2 separate regions of the Homo sapiens genome follow, and region 1 is linked to region 2. Evidence: fine-mapped expression QTL. Tissue or cell type: gastroesophageal junction. Region 2 holds a variant in brackets; the other region holds the start of a gene. All regions are shown on one strand. Distances are between the middles of the regions.

What was found. PIP is the estimated chance that this variant, and not a neighbour inherited with it, causes the effect. A credible set is the group of variants that fine-mapping cannot tell apart.
Region 1: it holds the start of LINC01634, and the variant in region 2 is the best candidate, but not a certain one, in a credible set for the expression of LINC01634 in gastroesophageal junction (GTEx, PIP 0.79).

The regions. Positions count from the first base shown.
Region 1 is chr22:18,027,223-18,031,610 of GRCh38, reverse strand. It overlaps LINC01634 (long intergenic non-protein coding RNA 1634), which reads right to left and starts at 2,226. Exons shown (of 2, transcript NR_024417.1): 1 at 2,057-2,226. RefSeq lists enhancers at 2,037-2,136, 2,177-2,246.
Region 2 is chr22:18,061,742-18,066,129 of GRCh38, reverse strand. The region is part of intron 1 of LOC105372853 (a long non-coding RNA gene); the gene reads right to left. Among named protein-coding and RNA genes, the nearest start is that of PEX26, 14 kb to the left of the region's middle. RefSeq lists a silencer at 606-695. The variant C/T (reference allele first, on the strand shown) is at 2,229.

The DNA of each region.
Region 1 (4,388 bases), 35 kb after region 2:
ATAAACTCTGGAGTTGGTAGGATGAAATGAGTAAATATATATAAATCACCTAGAACAGTGCTTAATGTTCTAAGTAAAATACTAATGTTGGTTATTGCTACTACTGAGTACAATGAAGAGCTGCAGTGGAAAGTCAGGGTGCTAGAGTGGCAATAATATGCAACACAGCTGGGTGCCGTGGCTCATGCCTATAATTCCAGCACTTTGGGAGGCCGAGGTGGGTGGATCACCTGAGGTCGGGAGTTTGAGACCAGCCTGGCCAACATGGTGAAACCCCGTCTCTACTAAAAATACAAAAATTAGCTGGGCGTGGTGGCACCCACCTCTAGTTCCAGCTACTTGGGAGGCTGAGGCAGAAGAATCAATGGAACCTGGGAGGCAGAGGTTGCAGTGAGCCAAGATGGCGCCATTGCACTCCAGCCTGGCTGCAAGAGCCAAACTCCATCTCAAAAAAAAAAAAAATGCAACACAAATGCATTTAAGACAGAAACCTGTTCTGCAAAGAGGAAGAGGTACCAGTAGATGCAATTATGGCAGCCTGGGGCTTTCTATAGGCCAAGTTTAGGCTACCTCATTGGAATAATATAATGTAGTTTCAGAACTGTGACTTCCGGCTTCAGCAGGCTGGAAGAAATCCATCTCCCATTAATCTTTCTATCAGACTCCAGGAAAAAAATAAAGCAAAAATATTTTCCTATTTCATCTTTAAGAAAGTCAAATTATTCAAGACACACTGAGCACCTATCTGCATAAAATAGTCTAATGATGATAGGAGTTAAAATGAAGTAAAAGATTTGTTCCCTGCTGTTAAGGATCTTATAATCCCTTTGGGAAGACAAGGTCAATACTGATACAGATGAAAGTATAATCTTCTTCTTCTTGAACAGTAAGAATCTATAACTTCACACATTTCTCTCTTTGCCCAGACTTTGAGCAAAGCTTATATTTAAATTCAGTGCCCAAATTCTGAAGCAACTCACTTTTTCTCAGGAGTCCTTCTGGATTCAATTATTTATTTACTTTTGAGATCTGGTTATGAGACTGGCTAATTTTTTGGTAGAGACGGGGTTTTGCCATGTTGCCAGATTGGTCTTGAACTCCTGGGCTCAAGCAATCTATCTGCCTCGGCCTCACAAAGTGCTGGGATTACAGGTGTGAGCCACTGTGTCTGGCCTGGATTCAATTTTTTATTACGAGTTTTATTTGTTTCTTTTTTAAGATACATATTCTAATGACAAATCATTTGAATCGTTTTGGGAATCAGAAGGTCAAAAGCACTAAAACCTTTTCTACTGGCATGAACTAGCAGTACAAGAAAAATAACCTGACTGGGCATGGTGGCTCACACCTGGAATCCCAGCACTTTGGGAGGCCAAGGTGGGTGGTTTGCTTGAGCCCAGGAGTTCGAGAGCAGCCTGGGCAATATTGTGAGACTCTGTCTCTACAAAATACACACACACACACACACACACACACACCACACATTAGCCAGGTGTGGCGTCATGTGCCTGTAGTCCCAGCTACCCAGGGAGCTGAGGTGAGAGCTCTAGGCTGCAATGAGCTGTGATTATACCACTGCACTCCAGTCTGGGCAACAGAGTGAGACTTTGTGAAAGAAAGAAAGAGAGAAAGAAGAGAGAAAGAAAAAAGAAAGAAAAGAGACAGAAGAAAAATGAGAAAAAAAGAAGAAAAAAGAAAGAAGAAAGAAGAGAGAAAGAAGAAAGAAAGAAAAAGAAAGAAGAAAGAAAAAAGAAAGAAAGAAAAGAAAAAGAAAGGAAGGAAGGAATAAAGAAAGAAAGATCCATGATGAAGACTCACAGAATCTTTGAGTTAAAGGGAACTTGGAAGTCATGGAGTCAACTCCTGTCCCAAAGTAGATATCCTATAAGCTCTCAGATGCTTGGATCCCAGCATTTCCCTAAGCAGACTTCCAGACCATTCTGTGGTGAGTCCGCAATTTTGGAAAATTCTTTGAACAGAAATCTATCTCCCATTCATCCTTATCCCTAATGATCCTCCTTCTGCCCTGCGGAGTGACATAGAACAAGCCACGTACCTCTTCTTCATTGGCAGCCATTCCTATACATAAAGTCAATAATCATGTTCTTCAGAAGACTCCAGGCTAGACATGCTCAACTGCAGTGGCCCCTCATCCTGCTGAGCAGTGCCCAAGGCCTGCAGCCTCCTCCTCTGGTGGATGAACTCTAGTTTATCAAGGTCCCTCCTGGAACCTTGTGCTACAGAGTGGTATAAATATGACCTGGCCAGCACCAAGATTCCTGGGCCAGTTACTCCGTGAAACATCAGGTTACTCTCTGTCTACTAATATAGCTCTGAGGTTTCATTAGCTGTTTCACCAGCTGCTTCCCACGTGGGGCTCTTACTGAACCTGTTGGTTGACTTAACTCCCTATCTTCTGTTTCACATGCACAAGTCAGGCCTCTACTGTGCAATATATATTTTCAACCAAAAGTGCAGGCCATTATATTTATTCATGCTAAATCTGAACTTAGTGGTTTTAGTCTATCAAAAACTCTAGGAAGACCTTTCTTTCTCTTTTAGAGACAGGCTCCCACTCCATTGCCCAGGCTGGAGTGCAGTGATGCAATCATAGCTCAATGTAGCCTCAAACTCCTAGGCTTAAGGGGTCCACTCTTGTGCACCACCACACCTGGCTAATTTCTATTTTTTTTTCCTAGAGACAGGGTCTTGAGCTGGGAGTCCTAGTGCACACCTGTAATCCTAGCTACTCGGGAGGCTGAGGTGAGAGGATCCCTTGAGCCAGGAGTTCAAGGCTGCAGAGCTATGATTGCACCACTGCACTCCACTCCAGCCTGGATGACAGAATGAGACCCTGACTCTTTAAAAAAGTAAAATAAAATAACAGGTTCTCGCTATGTCACCCAGGCTGATCAAACTGCTAATCTTAAGGGATCCTTCTGCCTCAGCCTCCGGAGTAGCTGGGATTACAAGCTCATTCTTAATGTTTATCCTGTCAACTATAGATTATAACTAAATTTTCATCTATTTTTGATTAGCTAGCTATGGTAGCTTTCTGTCATTTACAAATGTAGGCAGCCTGCCTTCAGACTTCAAGATTACTAATGAGATGCAGAGTGACCTTGAACTAGACAGTTAACCTCTGTAGAGCTCTGTTTCCTCATCTGAGGAAAGCAAGGGAGCAGAGAATGACCTCGTAGGTCTCTAGGAATTTCAGTGTACCTTATGCAAATAAAATGGCCAGCTGGTAAAAGACAGGGAAGGGGAAAAAAGCATAGACTGACCCCTTTCACTCATGGTATAAAGTGGTCAAGTAAATGTTCTATGTTCAAATATATGTATTTTAACTTTAAACCTCAGGCATTGTCTTCAGGTAATTAAACTCTGTGAACAACATGGTAGATACCTTCATTCATAATTAAACATTCAATTTTTGCATAGTGCTAGTCTGTGGGGGAGAAAAGCTGCAAAATTTACAGGTATTTTGTCAATTTAATTGCAGTAAATTTGTTCCTAAATTCAGTACGTTATCTAAAACTGCTTGATGAAATATTAGTCTTTTTTTTTTTTCTGAGACAGAGTCTCACTGTGTCGCCTAGGCTGGGATGCAGTGGTGTGATCTCAGCTCACTGCAGCCTCCTCCTCCCAGGTTCAAGCAATTCTCCTGTCTCAGCCTCCCGGGTAGCTGGAACTACAGGCACACGCCACCGCACCTGGCTAATTTTTGTATTTTTAGTAGAGATGGGGTTTCACCATGTTGGCCAGGATGGTCTTGATCTCTTGACCTCGTGATCCACCCGCCTCGGCCTCCCAAAGTGCTAGGATTACAGGCATGAGCCACCGCACCCAGCCAAAGTCACTAATACAAAGTATTAGTCTTATACTCACTTTAATGCAATAGGTGCTAAACACTGTTTTCAGTATTCAGAAATTCACTCAATAAGAGAATTTATAAAAGATCTATTGCCACGTTGAATCCACTCCTATTAATTTTCCAACAGCCTTTAGCCCTAAATTTATTCAAGAGTAAAAAACCTTTTGGCCTGATCTGATTTTAGAAGGTACATTTTAAAATAGTCAAAAGGACTAGATTCCCTCCCATCACACTTAACTTTCTCAGTGGGGAAAAAAACAAACGCTGAAAAGGTTTAAAGAGATTCTAGAGTTGACATTGAGCCCCCAGCCCTCACCTTCTGCCCTCTTTGCTATCTTCTCTCAAGGAAGAAGAAAGCAGCATTAGGTTTCATTTCATCTTGGAGAACCATCAGCGAGATCACACAGCCTTATTGCCAACCTTTGACAGTTCTATTACTCTAGTTGCTTTTCCTGAGAGGTCTCCCCTACCCCACCCATCAAAGCCTAACCCTCTCTGACAAGTTTTTCAATTT
Region 2 (4,388 bases):
GGGGAGACCATGGTACCACCCCAATAGATCAGAGCTGAATAAATTCAAAGCAAATGACAATCCCTGCCATGCTGCTGCTTCTCTCAAACCCCAGCAGCCAAACAGATAAAGGACTTTGTATGAAGAGGGAGCAGCAGACTGCTGTATGGGTGGCAGGGATGATGTGATGGGATTGGTGTGTTCTCTGCCCAGTCAGATCCATTTTCAATTCTCAATAATAGCAAGTAGCAATAAAATATTCTCTTAGACCATCACATCGAGGTTGCGTACTTCCTTGGACATGCAAGACCCGGCAGATTGTAAAGCGAGCCACGGTATTTAGGAGCCAGGACCCACATGCCAATGTCATCACCTCTCCTGCCTCTCACCCCACCTCCTTTCCAGAGCCATTGAATTTAGAGCAGTGTTGCCCTCTGCTCTCTGCACCAAATGCAACTGGCATACAGCTGCAGATATGGCTGCCATGCCCCATCCATCCTACAGGTGCCCATTGTCAAGTGAAGAAATGCCTGACTTTGGAGTGACAGCGTCAGAGTGTGTGGAAAGAATCCTCCTATCCCCAAACCACCCGAGAATTACATAGCTGTGCCCCATCATGCTGGCTAAGAACCTCTGCCCTCCTGCCCCCGCCTCTGCCTGCACCTGCATGACTTGCAGCTTAGCAAGCCTCTGAGCGATGACACAGCTTTGACCGACGGGGGCCGCCACTGCCTGCCCGTTGGTGGGCACAGCCAGGAAGACTCCTTCAAGGAGCACACGCTCATTTCATCCATCTCCTGGAAGCAGCTTGCCCATGTCCCTCAGGACCCAGCCCCTGCCTGCCTTCCTGGCCTCATTTCTCACTCCTAGTCTCCTCCTCATACCCACAGCTGCAGTCATAAAGCCCACCCTGCCACTGTCCTGGCCCACTCTGCCCTCTCTCAACCTGGGACTTTAAGCAAATGACTCCTTCTTCTTGGAAGCCCCTCTCTGCTTCCTGGACAGGCTGACCCCTTTTAACCCTCCAGAGTTTAGCTCAATTATCACCCCTTCTGGGAAGATTTTCCTAAATCTCTCCTTGCCTCTGTCAGGTGGGTGACGAGCTACTTGTCTATCTTCCTGTGGCACCCTGTACTTACCTGCATTGCAGCCTGCTCACCGTCTGCTTACGGAAGCAAATCCCACACCAAACTATTAACTCCTGCAGGGCTTTGCTGCGCATTTTATTTCTAACTCCTTACCTAGCTAGGCAGTGAATATTTCTTGAATGAATGATCAGGATCCCTTGGCCTCGTGAGTAACCAGGTCTCCACTAGCGAGGTAAAATAAAGAAGTAAGGCTGTGATCTCAACCTTCCAGGCCAGTCACCTGTCTTATCAAGCACATCTGCGTCCTGGAGTGTTGACTCCTGCACCCGCACTCTAGGCCCTCCCTTGGCCTCCCCCACCCAGTCCTTATTCCCACCTCTGCCACCCTGTACCCTGAGGCTCCCCTTGGGCACTCTGTGGCTAAGAAAACAAAAGTGTCTCTCTGGTTTACCAAAGAGAACGTGCTATATCCTTGGATAAGGCCTTCCTTTCCCCCCTTCTCTTCCTGAGTTAGGAGAACCTGGGCTGCACCCTTTCCAACTGCTGGATCAGCCTCTGCCCGCCTCCCACCCCAGCCCCCACCTGAATGGGAGAGGAAACACAAAACCTCAGAGAGGGTCTGGAGGCAAGAAGCAAATTGAGTTTGAAAAACGGGACTTGGCTGGGTGCGGTGGCTCACACCTGTAATCCCAGCACTGTGGGAGGCCGAGGCAGGCGGATCGTTAGGTCAGGAGATTGAGACCATCCTGGCTAACATGGTGAAACCCCGTCTCTACTAAAAATACAAAAATTTAGCTGGGCGTGGTGGCGGGCGCCTGTAGGCTACTCAGGAGGCTGAGGCAGGAGAATGGCGTGAACCCAGGAGGCGGAGCTTGCAATGAGCCGAGATTGCGCCACTGCACTCCAGCCTGGGCAACAGAGCGAGACTCTGTCGAAAGAAAAAAAGAAAGAGAGAGGGAGGGAGGGAGGGAGGGAAGGAAAGAAGGAAGGAAGGAAGGAAGAAGGAAGGAAGGAAGGAAGGAAGGAAGGAAGGAAGGAAGGAAGGAAGGAAGGCAGGCAGGCAGGCAGGCAGGCAGGCAGACAGACGGGACTTGTACAAGCAAAATAGGCTGAGAATATCAACATTCAGTTAGGAAAGCAGAGGGGAGATGTGATTGGACG[C/T]TGCCGTCCTAGAGGCCTCGTTCAGGCAGGTTGGGAACGTACAGCTGGAAGAAAACGTTAGTCAGATATTAGCAGGAACCATCTTGATTTACTCAGTGTTTTAACAGATTTCCACTGTGGGGATTGTCTCCTTGGAATCAGAGTTGGGAGTGAGTGTGAGACCCCTGGAATCCCTTTCTGCCCTGGAATTCTATGCTCTAGGCCAGCGGTGGCCTTCCTGGGACCCAAGTTCCGTTAAAGCTATTTTCATCAGCAGTAAATTAGCTAGTCTGGGAGGATGGGAAAGTAGTGCTTCTAAAGGAGGCAATTCACTAGGTCAGGATGCCCTGGGGCAACAGTGGAGCAGCTTTGGATCCCAGAACAACAGCCTCCAGTGTTCAGGATGCGGTAGGTTAAGTGGGGAATCTCCACAGAGCCTGACCCATCCTCAGAGCGGGCAATACCAGGACCCCCGGATAAAACCGCAGAGACTTCCGAACTCCCTGGGGCTAACAGCTCACCATTTGTAACACTAGCTATTCAAGGAATGAAGCTTATGGTGCAGGCTTAATCTTAACAATAATCCTGGCTATTGCCATTAGACTGAAGCTCAGAAAAGTTAAGAAATTTGCCTGACACTACAAGCTAGTAAATGGCAGGGCCAGATCCTAACCCAGAAATGGGACATCAATTCGGCTATACCACATCACCCCAACTCCCAGTGCTCCTCCCAGAGGAACCGATTCAGTGAGTTGGCCGGTGGCAGGGATGGTCTAGCCTAAGCTCCACAATTCCCTCCCCAGAATAAAAGGGAAGACCGAGATCTCAGTGCCTATCAGATTTATGTTGGTGGCACACGAGCGCTGCCTCTGAAGACAAACATATGTGAAGCTCCCGGTGTCCTTTTTCCTGGCTGGGCCAGGTTCTTTCAGCAAGCAAGAACTCACTGGGCTGTGCAGAAAAAGCAGGGTTGGAGGGGAGAGTCGAGCTAAAGAGGCGTCTGAAGTAGTGGAGAGAGCCCTAGGCTGGGTCAGAATGTCTAGGTTCTTTTTCCGGTTAGTGCAGAACAAGTTACTTCCTCTCCAATCCCCAGAATCTTTATCAAGGAAAAGGGTGTGGGGTGGTGAAGAACAGAGGTATTAGCATAAGGAAATGCCCACTATACTGACCTTGCTGGGTTATAAGGATAAAATGCAATCATTACTGTGAAAGAACATTGACTAATATGAAGTGCTGTATGTAGTCATGTTTTATAAAATCCTTAAGCTCTTGTATCATTGACTCTCCAGCTCAGTGTGTTTCATAGCGAGGTGCTGGCGCTCAAATGGCCCAGCCTAAGCATTGCAATGCCCTAGGGTTCTCTGTGATCTGTTGATCATATCATCCAACCACATCAAAATCTTGACAAGATCAGTCCTGCCTGGCTGTCCACTCTTGAACTCTAGACTCCTGATATTAACCTCAGTCCCACTTTTCTAAACAAGTTGGCCAGGCACGGTGGCTCACGCCCGTAATCCCAACACTTTGGGAGGCCAAGGCGGGTGGATCACCTGAGGTCAGGAGTTTGAGACCAGCCTGGCCAATATGGTGAAACCCGTCTCTACTGAAAATACAACAATTATCCGGACGTGGTGGTAGACGTCTGTAATCCCAGCTACTTGGGAGGCTGAGGCAGGAGAATCGCTTGAACTTGGGAGGTGGAGGTTGCAGTCAGCCGAGATCACGCCATTGCACTCCAGCCTGGGCGACAAGAGTGAAACTCTGTCTCTAAATAAATAAATAAATAAAACAAGTCAAGTTCTTTCTCATCACTGGACTTTGCAAATTCCAAGTCCATAATTCAGAATACTTGGTCTGATCATCCCTACCCCACATCTAAGGTCAGCATGTCAGCATTCAAAAAGCAGAGACCAGCAGGCATGGTGGCTCACGCCTGTAATCCCAGCACTTTCAGAGGCCAAGGCAGGTGGGACACTTGAGCCCAGGAGTTCAAGACCAGCCTGGGAAACATGGCAGAACTCTGTCTCTACCAAAAAGAATACAAAAATTAGCTGGGCCTGGTAGCAGGCACCTGTAGTCCCAGCTACTCAAGAGACTGAGGTGGGAGGATCACTTGAGCCCAGGAGATGGAGGCTGTACCTATTATTGAACTACTGCACACTACTCCAGTCTGGGCAACAG